Regions from separate parts of the Homo sapiens genome. Here region 1 is linked to region 2. Evidence: fine-mapped expression QTL. A gene starts in region 2. The other region holds a variant in brackets. All regions are shown on one strand. Distances are from middle to middle. Region 1 has its middle 32 kb from the start of QDPR. Region 2 holds the start of QDPR (quinoid dihydropteridine reductase).

Region 1 (5,377 bases), 32 kb before region 2:
CTGTGTCCACCAACCTGCTGCATGGAGGAAGCCACCAAGGAGATGAGAGGCGGACAAAGCAGCAGATGGCAGGAATAAACAGGAGGAGATGTTACCGTCATGCCTCCCTAACCAGAGAATCATACAAACCACCAAGGGTGGCGCTTGGGTGTGGACCCCGGCTCCCTGACTCATTTGCATCACTTAGTAGGGATGTGCGGGATAGTAAGCTTCTCCAAGGCTGTTTCCCTGTCCACTCATTCAGCACTTACTCAACACTGAACAGGTGGAGAGGCACTGTGAAAAATAATGCTTCAGGGGGTAAGAGAAACTAATCTTCATCCCTTCTCTCCTCTACGTTCCTAACCCACCAGGAACAGACAGGAAGGTAGAGGTGAGAAATCAGTTCTGCATAGGCAAGAAGAGGGCAGGAGAGTGAGCAACCCACACAGCCCAAAGTCCATGCAGCAGACCCGCCCCTGGTCCATATGTTCCAGTCAGTCTTTATTTACAGTCTCTCCAATCAGATAAATCCGTCCTTCCTCCTATGGTGAGGAGCAAGTGAGGACCTCAAGAGAGGAAAAGATACATTCCTGCAAAAACCTTCCCATCCTGGAGGCTGAAGAGGTGAATGCCTTAAGGATATACAAGGAAGGATGTATGTAAAACCCCACACACACAGCAGATGGCCCATGAATGCCACATATCATTAGCACATTCAGGGACCAAGTGCCAATGTGCAATCTCTTTTTGTTTGTTTTTGAGATAGGGTCTGTATTAGTCCGTTTTCACGCTGCTGATTAAGATATACCCAAGACTGGGAAGAAAAAGAGGCTTCATTGGACTTACAGTTTCACATGGCTGGGGAGGCCTCAGAATCATGGCGGGAGGCAAAAGGCACTTCTTACGTGGTGACGGCAAGAGAAAAATGAGAAAGAAACAAAAGCAGAAACCCCTGATAAACCCATCAGATCTCGTGAGACTTATTCACTACCACGAGAATAGCATGGGAAAGACCGGCCCCATGATTCAATTACTTCCCCCTGGTTCCCTTCCATTCCCACAACACATGGTAATTCTGGGAGCCACAATTCAAGTTGACATCTGGGTGGGGACACAGCCAAACCAAATCAGGGTCTCACTCCATGATGGCTGGAGTACAATGGCATGATCACAGCTCACTGCAGCCTCAACCTCCCAGGCTCAAGTGATTCTCCCACCTCAGCCTCCCGAGTAGCTGGGGCTACAGGCATGTGCCACCATGCTGGGCTAATTTTTGTATTTTTTTGTGGAGAGGGGGTGTTACTATGTTGCTCAGGCTGGTCTCTAACTCCTGGGCTCAAGTGATCCACCCACCTAGGCCTCCCATAGTGGCTGGGAGCCACCATGCCCAGCCTTCCAATGTGCAAGCTCAACTCACACTTAGTATGTCCTGCACCCTGTCCATAAGGGATCTCACAGACTTCAGTGCAAATTCTGGCTTCTTTCTACACCGGCTATGTGGTTTGGGAAAATAACTTAAACTCTATGATCCTTAGTTCCCTCACCAGATATGGAACTAATATCTACCTCACTCAGGTGCTTAGTCCAGGTTCCCTAGAAAACAGCGAGAAACGAAAGCTTATGTGCAAATGGAAATCATCAAAGTTAAAAATTATGTTCTTCAAAGGGCACCATCAATAAAGTGAAAAGACAACCCACTGAATGAAAGAAAGGTGTGGCAAATCACTTATCTGATAAGGGAATTGTATCTAGAGTATATAGAGAATCTAAGAATTCAGTAATAAAAGGATATTATTAAAAATTGAGCAAAGGATCTGAACAGACATTTCACCATATGCAAATAGCCAACAAGTACATGAAAAGATGCTCAACATCATCAGCTATGAGGGAAATACAAATCAAAATCACAATGAGATGCCACTCCACACCCACTAGGATGGCTATAATCAAAAAGAGACAACCTATAATCAAGCAATCAGTGCCGATTTTTAAGAAAACCAAAATTAAGATACCAACTGAATTAAAAATTATGTAATACTTGTGGCACTCTGACAAATGAGACCTTGAGGTCCTTACTTGCTCCTCACCATAGGAGGAAGAGGATGGACTTATCTGACTGGAGACATGTAAATCAAGACTGACTGGACTGGACATGTGGAAAAACTAAAACCATCATACACTACCAGTGGAAATGTAAAATGGTGCAGCTGCTTTGGAAAACAGTCTAGTAATTGCTAAAATGGTTGAATATAGAGTCACCAACTGATATTCAATAACTCTACTTGTAGGCATGTACCAAAAGAAATGAAAATATATGTTCACACAAAAGGTGAGTTTTGCAAATGTTCACAGCATCATAACTGACTATGGCCAAAAAGCAGAAACAATTCACATGTCTAACAACTGATGAGTGGACAAATAAAATGTGGCATAACCATACAATGGAATATTATTTGGCAATAAGAACCGAAGTATTGCCACGTGCTGTGTGACATGAACTTTACTTTCCCGTCATACTTCCATATAAAATTAGAAACAGATAATAAGAATAACAACCAATACTTTCTGAGCACTTCTATATGCCAGTCCTTTTGCATGCATTCATTTGTTTAATCCCTGGAGATCATGATAATGTTCCCGTTTCTCATATGACTGAGATATGGAGATGTAAGAAATATTCTCAAGGTTCTACAGCAAGTAAATGGAAGAACTATGTCCAAATTCATGTGACCTGACTCAGGGCCCTTCTATAACTCTATATTGCTTCTAGGTGTAGGTTATACTCACACTGAAAGTTCCAAAGAAAAAGTCACAATTGTTTAATGGAACAGACCACAGCGGGTTCCTCCCCAGTACTCTGGAGGAGCCCCATGGCATGCTGTTCTATTCCTAGAAGCTGTGTACGCTCTCAGCTTCCAGGAACATGCAGGCTGACCTCCAAGCTGGTGACAGCCCATTTGGAAGGGGGCAGAAGCCACAATCTGGAATGTAGCAGGAAATTAGCACCTAGAGGCAAGCTGTCTTCAGGCAAGTTCGGGCTGAGGGAAGCTAAAATTCAATAAGCCAGGCTTCAAATTACATGTATCTGATCAATTCCCTAAGAAATGATTTCAGCTATAAAGCATACCTGTGAGAACAAACAGATTCAAAAACCTGGTAGAGTTTTCCAGATTC[T/G]GTTCAAGGATAAAGTTTAGAAGATTCCAACAAAGTACCTAACCTAAGTTAAAGTTGTCTGTACACCATTTCCTCTCCTCTCATGCTTTCATAACCCCACTCGAATATTCCCTACTCCCCATTACTCTACTGAACTGTTTGTCAAGATCGCAAGGACCTCCCCACAGCTGGGTCCAATGGTCAGTTTTTATAGCCCTTATCTTACTTGACTTCTCACAGCATTCAACACTGCTGCTCATTCCCTCCCTTCTTGATACTTTCTTCACTTTATTCCTGGGACACCACATTCTTACTTTTTCTCCTACTTTATTGGTTGTTCTCTTTCAGTGCCCTTTTGTTGATTTTTTTTCTCCCTATTATCAGAGAAATTATCTTCTTCTCTTCTCTTCTCACATATTTAGTGTATTGCCAGTTTCCAATTTATTTCCTCTCTGCTCCAAAGCCACCCTTCATTGACTGTTCTGCAATAATGGAACTGGACTCTGTAAACATTTCTCCTGCATAGCTGATACAATGTTCAGTTTTGCCAACACAGAGTGTTGGAGGAGGGGGCTTCCTTTCCTGGTTCTGGTGTGCTTCCATATGGTTCCTGCCACATGGTTACCATGTACATGTGAGGGACATCCAGCAGCACTTCATGCACCCTGGCAGGGTGCTTCCTGCTTCCCCAGTGGCTGTAGACCAACACAGGCCCAGGGAACCCAACAAACTCTGCTGTCCAGTGCCATAACTTCTCCATGTCCACCTCTCTATGTCCTACTCTATGTCCACCGCCATACCTTCTCCAATGAAGCTCAGGTCCCAGCCTTGGGGAGGGACTTGTCTTCCAAATTTGTTCCTCAAGTGCTGTCCCTCGGCACAAGAATATTCTTCAGAGTTCTCATTAGCCTTTTAGAATTAATCTTTGCTACTCGATAATTCTTTATATTACACTGACCTCATTCACAATACTGCATGGCTTCTGTCTTCTGGACCCTGGCCAACACATTCCCTTAGTGATCTCACCTAGTCTCATAACTTTAACTGCTTAGGACCCCCAGATCTCTCAGGACCCCTAGATCTCTCTCTCTCTCAAACACCAGACTTAATACAACTGCCCACTTAACATCTCCACTGGGGTATTAATAGAGTAAACCTCTATGTCCAAAACAACACTCCAGATACTCCCAATACTTGCTCTATCCACAGCCTTCTCTATCACACTTGCTAACTTAATCCATTTGCTCACGTGAAAAACTTTGGGAGACATCACTGACTCTTTTCTCTCTTACCGTCACATTAAATCCACCAGGAAATCCTCTTGAATCTGTCTTCAAAATATCCACCATTTCCCAATTCTCCTCTCACGACCTCCACTGCTACCACCCTAACCACTGTCATTTCTTGCCTGGATTCTTGCAAAAACCTCAGTACTATCCTCAACACAACAGCCAGAGCAATCTTTTAAAATATATCATGCCACTCTTTCGCTCAAAATCCTTGCGGTAGTTCCCAAAATCCAAAACCAAATCCTTAAAATGCCCAACACCCCCTTACATTTGCTATTCCCAAACTGTGCACCAAGGCACTCCAAGGCAGCATTCACAGGGACTCTACAGGGTACTTTCCATGTTCTAGGTCATAGAGCAATATCAGTCATATTACTACTATAAAATTGTTAGAACCCAACCACTTGTAAATCCAAATCATTAGTTAGTTTCTTTGATGTAGGGGCATTGTAAAAAATTACTGAGACACTAAGGGCACTGTGGGCCTAGAAAATTGGGGGACCCCTACCCTACACAATCATCTGTCTGATCTTATCTCCTGAAACTGCCCCTCTGTTTGCTCCATTCTCTGCCCCAGCCAACCCAGCCTCCCTGTGTTCCTCACCCCACCTGGTACACTACTGCCTCAGGCTCTTTGCAATGACTGGTTCCTCTGTCTTAAAATGTCCTTACCTCAGATGCCCTTGGCTGCCTTCTACACTTTCTTTCAGATGTGTTCAAACGTCACTTCCTCACGAGATATTCCATCACTGCCTGTATTAGTGTGGGCTGCCATAACAAAACACCACAGAGTGGGTGGCTTAACATCACACATTTATTTTCTCTGTTCTGGAGGCTGAAAGTCCAAGACTGAGGCTCCAGTCAATTCCATCTCTTGTGAGGGCTCTCTTCTCAGCTTGTGGACGGCAGCCTCCTTGCTGTGTCCTCACACAGACTTTCCTCAGTGCATGCGT
Region 2 (5,377 bases):
CTGGCAACCCACTGGAAGGAGAAAACAGCTTTGGTTAAGAGGCAGTGAGTTGTTATTCCATGAAAGAGTCACACATAGAAATGAGGGGAGTTGGCCAGGTGTAGTGGTTCACGTCTGTAATGCCAGCACTTTGGGAGCCAATGTGGGAGGATCTCTTGAGGCCAAGAGTTTGAGACCAGCCTGGGCAACATAGCAAGACCCAGTCCCTACAAAAAAATTTTAAAATTAGTCAGGTGTGGTGGCACATGCCTGTAGCCCCAGCTACCCGGGAGGTTGAGGCGAGAGGATCACTTGAGCTCAGTGAGCTATGATCGCACCACTGTACTCCGGGCTAGGCAACAGAAGGAGGCCTTATCTCCATTTAAATAAAAGAAAAAGAAAAAGAAAGAAAAATAAAGGAGCAGAGTGGAGACAGGTAAGAGGCTTCAATGAAAACACACCCTATATTGGGCTCCATCCCAGGCCCTCCTACCTCCAAACACTCTACTCCGCCTCCACATTCACCTCTAAAACACAAACCCTGCACTTCTAGAGACATCAAGGGCCAGCAAATTTTCTGTAAAGGGCCAGATCACAATTACCTTAGGCTTTGCTGGCCATATGGTATCTGTTGTTACTCAAATCTGCAATTGTAACAGAACACAGCAATAAATAGGGGGAAAAAATAAGTGCAGCTGTGTTCCAATAAATCTTCAGAGCTGAAATGTGAATTTCATTAATTTTCATATACAACAAAATATAATTCTTCATTTGATTTTCTTTTCAACCACCTGAAAATGTAAAACTATTCTTAACTCTTGGGCTGTACAAAAACAGGTGGCAGACCAGATTCAGCTCACAAAGGATCCCTGTCCTGCAGCAGAGAGGGATGGACTTTAGGATTGGAAATCAGACAGATCAGGTTTGAATCCCAGCTCTGCCAGAGTGGCTTTCTCACTCCGATGCCGGGCAGAGGTTCCCAACAAAAGAGGTTGTTTGTTGATGATTAACAGGGTCAGTGTAAGAATTAAATGAAATGGAAGATGCTAAAGCTCCTGGCACAGGGGATGTTCAGTCCTTACTCAGGGTCTCTTGGTCTGAAGTCCCCAGAGATAATTATCTCTACCTTAAGCTGTAAACACAGCATCTATTCATCAACATTTGTTATATTATTAATTAACTTGTTATCCCATGGGGGATACTGAAACAATGAAAAGTCTCCATCATCCTAGCCCTCCCTAAGATGGCAGGAAGAAGCTCGGAGGGGAAAGACCAAGAGCCAGAGGTAAATCAGCTCTCCAGATTCTGCCAAGACCAAGGTAAACCAAAGTGCCACCACCAGGAGAAAGCACAGCCTTCACCCTCTAACACATGACGCTAACAGGATCTACTGCCTTAAAGATATTGGGGGCATTAAGAGTCTATGGGAACTCTGGTACTGGGAACACAGTGCCTGGCCCTTGGCAGAAGTGCTGCCTCTGTCACCACCATGCATCTCTGAAGACCTGGGAAAGCGCCCTCATCAGTGTCCCCAAGCACTGAGCAGATGGGTGGCAGGAAGGGAGTGGTGTGACTGAATTCTTCAGAAGCATATTCCTGTACCAGATTCTGAGCAACAAGAAAACCTTGGTAAATGTACACTATTTGGGTGATGGTTACACTAAAAGCCCAGACTTCACCACTACACAACATATCCATGTAACTAAACTGTACTTTTGCCCCCTTCATCTATAAAAATTAGATAGTTTTTTTTTAAAGAAAATCCTGAAAGCCTTTTTCTGGTCCCAGGGGAACTCTTGCCCAGGCTGCTGTGCTGCTGCTGCTAACTAAGCTCCCAGAACGCTGCCGCTGGCAGTGTCTCCACCGGGAAATTGCTGAGGCCTGCTGAGCGGCTGAGGTCAAGGGTCTTTGGCCATGTATCAGCTCTGCTCCGACTTGCCGCCTCCTGGAAATTGACACCTGACTATGCAAAGTAGTTGAAATAGTCTTTGCAGAGCAAAGAAGCCGTCAGCGTTTTTCCGTGCTGAGCCTTCAAACTGTCAGATCCAATGGGGCTAAAAGAACAGGGGTGGGTAGTAATAGTAACATTAATAGACAGCATTTAAACAGTTTTTACCAGGCGTCAGGTAATTTATGTGCAACGACACCAATTATCTCATCTAATCGTCCCAACTCTCACTGTCAGAATCTCCGTTGTACAAATGGGGAAACCGAGGTCCTACGGCGTTAGGTAATCAATACGCGGTCTCATGACTAGTAACCGGGACTGGGCTGTCTCATTCTAGAGCCTTCCTTCTACACTCTCTCTCCGTCCTCTCACCCCTGCTCCCGTTCCTCCCCTTTGGAATTCTCTCCCGAGTCACGCCGGACTTTTTGGGTCTGGCGGAGGCCCACGGAGCACCTCCTTGCACAGCAAAGGCCCAGCGCCCTGGGACTGGCGTGCGCACGCACTCGGAAACAGGAATAGACGCGTAGACCTGTGCGCGCACGTGCAAGCAACACGAGTCAGGGGGTGCACAGGGGCCCCCACCTTCCTCTAGACTGCCCCCCGCCGGGTTCCACACGAAAGCCCCCGGCCACCCCCGCGGAGACCCAGCAGCCCCAGCCCGCAGCATTACCCAGTTGCGGGCCCGAAAAGCCTGCACGCATCGAGAACCCAGAGCGCCCCTGCCGCCGTACACCAGCACCCGGCGCGCCTCGCCTGCAGCCGCCGCCGCCGCCATCCTGCTCCTGCCAGCCCGGCTCCCGCAGCTCCGAATGCCTCGAGCCGGAGCGCCGCGCCCCGCCCCGGCCGGCCAACCCCGCCAAGAGGGAACGCGCGGCGGCCGCGCCCCGCTCCGCGCCCGCTGCTGCCGCCTAGCGCGCTGCCACGCTCGGGGCGCCCCGCCACCCGGAGGGACTGTAACTTCGGCCAGGCCCTGCCCCTGGGACGGGGACATCGGCGAAGCCCCTCCTCCCACCCGCCAGCAAGTGCTGGGCCTCGGGGCGTGCAGCGAGCCGGGCTAAGGGCGAGGAGGGTGGAGAGCGGGTGTTTTACGAGCATTAATTTGTGAAGTGTAAGCATGTAAAATATAGTATAGTACAATTTTCGACCACTGTTTTGGCAATTTTTTATTTTTAATTGTGCATCAAAATAGAGATTTAAGTATTCCCACCTGCCAAAAAAACAGAAGAGGTCGCTCCGCTCAAGGAGCTGAAAGTCCACCGCCGAGACGAGACAAACCACACTAGGTCTTATTTCTTCTATCTAACCGTAAATTTATACCCATTAATCCAAATGGCCCTTTTACTATATGCCACCCATCGCCAGACACAGATCCTGGCATTTTCTCCCTTGTATATTAGTTATTTCTGCCCATGGCCTGTATCTTTAACACAGAGCCTCTCATCTACAGCACTACTGACATTTTGGGCCAGATAATTATTTGTGACAGGTGCTGCCCTGGGTACTGTAGGATATTTACAGCATCCCTGGCCTGCATATACTAGAAATCAATAGCAAACCCCTACCCCTCACTCATAAGAATCAAAAATATCTCCAGATTTAACAGTTGTCTCCTAGGGGCAAATTCATCACTGATAGAGAACCAGAGCTCTAACACTCTCATAACCTTCTTGATAGCAGAACCCTGTATTACATACATCTTTGTGTCACTTCCCATCCACATATAACCTTGTACACAGCAGACACAGATGTTTGTTCAGTAAACTTGTGCCAGGTAAAGCATGCAGAAATATGTCACTAGAGAAGAGGATGCAGCCAGCAGCACATTTTGTTGTCAGAAGCTTCATTATCAGAAATAGAACTGCTAGGAGGCTGGATGGAGAGGAGAGCACCATCTATTTAGTGCTCCTTATATCCAAGGCACTGCGCTAAGTGATCTGCCTGTGCTATTTCACTTTACTCCACACGATAATCCTATGCAGATTAGAAAGCTGAGGCATGAGAGTCACAGACACTTGTCTGGAAGAGTGGGAATTTGAACACAGGTCTTCAATAGCTAGAGTTCCACTTAACCACACCTTTGTTCAGCAAGACAAAGGCTTGTTGGGAATCAAGTGTTTCCCTTAGAGTTTTTCTGAAAACAATTGCTTAACCCTCAAAACACCAAAAGTTGACACAGGTCCCTCACTGACGGCAGAAATATGACTCAATGATATTTACGCAAGTCCTGACTTGTCAAAGCATGCTTAATGTTAAAATAAGAACGTGAACTAACATTATTGATCACTTAATGTGCCAAGCAGTCTTCTGAGCCTTTTATATGTATTCTGTTATTTTTTACCAGAAAAACATTTGCTGTTTCAAAGTCACTGGGATGAAGATGAGCTGTTGTAATTCAAAGACCTGAATTTCAGCCCCAGCACTGACATCCAGTTTTTCATGAGAGAAATGGCTGAAATCGTGCATCTCCTGTTTACCTTAAAGGGTTGCTGGAGCATCAGAGGTGAGCAAGCATATGGTCAAAGCATTTTGCATTTTGTACATGGTAAAGTGCCACTCATCTGTATATATAGTAAGAGACAGGATCTCACTCTGTTACTCAGAGTGGCATGATCATAGCTCACTACAGCCTTGAGCTCCTGGGCTGGAGCAGTCTTCCAGCCTCAGCCTCCAGTAGCTGGGACTACAAATACACGCCATCAGGCCCAACTATTTTTTTTTTTTATTTTTTGTAGAGATAAGGTCTCACTACATTGCCCAGGCTCAGAAATTCTCATTTTTATTTTCATTGTGGAGTGGCCACTGAAGTGAGCCCCAGTTGCGAGGAAGGAAACTGACATTTCCATTAATGTGTCCCTCTGCTTCCTTGACACTCTCCAAGTGAGATTCCTGGGACCCCTATTGGTTAACAGTGCAACTTCCTGAACCCCCCTTCAGGCTTCTGTGACCAACTAAGAAATTTTACTGCTCCACTTTTGCCCAACTTTGCTCCCCAGAGATATGGATAGAGTGACTGTTGCCAGTCTCACATGATGTTAAGTTGATATTCAGGAATAAGGTAAAAGTCAAAATGTCAAAGTCCACAGTATAAGATAGAAAGGAAAGAATATTTCATTCCTAGTATCTACAGATTAAAAGGAAAGCCTAGATCTTCCACTATTAGAAGAGATGAATACCCCAGCAGTGTGGCTACTATTTGCTAATACACTAGAAAAACACTTTTCTCTCCCATTTCAGATAACGTAGAAGGAGGGACGGGTGAGAGCAATGTTAAGTGTTGGATTCCAGGCTACCCCAACAGCCACAAAGTAATTCTAGTCACAGTTTACCCCCAGCAGATTCACACAGTGAGAAATTCATAAGGCCCTATTTACACATTTCAATATTAAAGCCCCAAGAACCGGGGTCATTTGATGGTATTAATAACAGTCCTAAAGATTCTGACAGCAGTGA

The links.
Region 1: its variant is fine-mapped to the expression of QDPR in monocytes (Quach 2016, PIP 0.95).

The regions. Positions count from the first base shown.
Region 1 is chr4:17,477,814-17,483,190 of GRCh38, forward strand. No RefSeq gene overlaps it. Among named protein-coding and RNA genes, the nearest start is that of QDPR, 32 kb to the right of the region's middle. The variant T/G (reference allele first, on the strand shown) is at 3,157.
Region 2 is chr4:17,509,353-17,514,729 of GRCh38, forward strand. QDPR (quinoid dihydropteridine reductase) reads right to left here and starts at 2,738. Exons shown (of 7, transcript NM_000320.3): 1 at 2,598-2,738; 2 at 1-11. The coding sequence starts at 2,702. RefSeq lists a silencer at 2,367-2,946.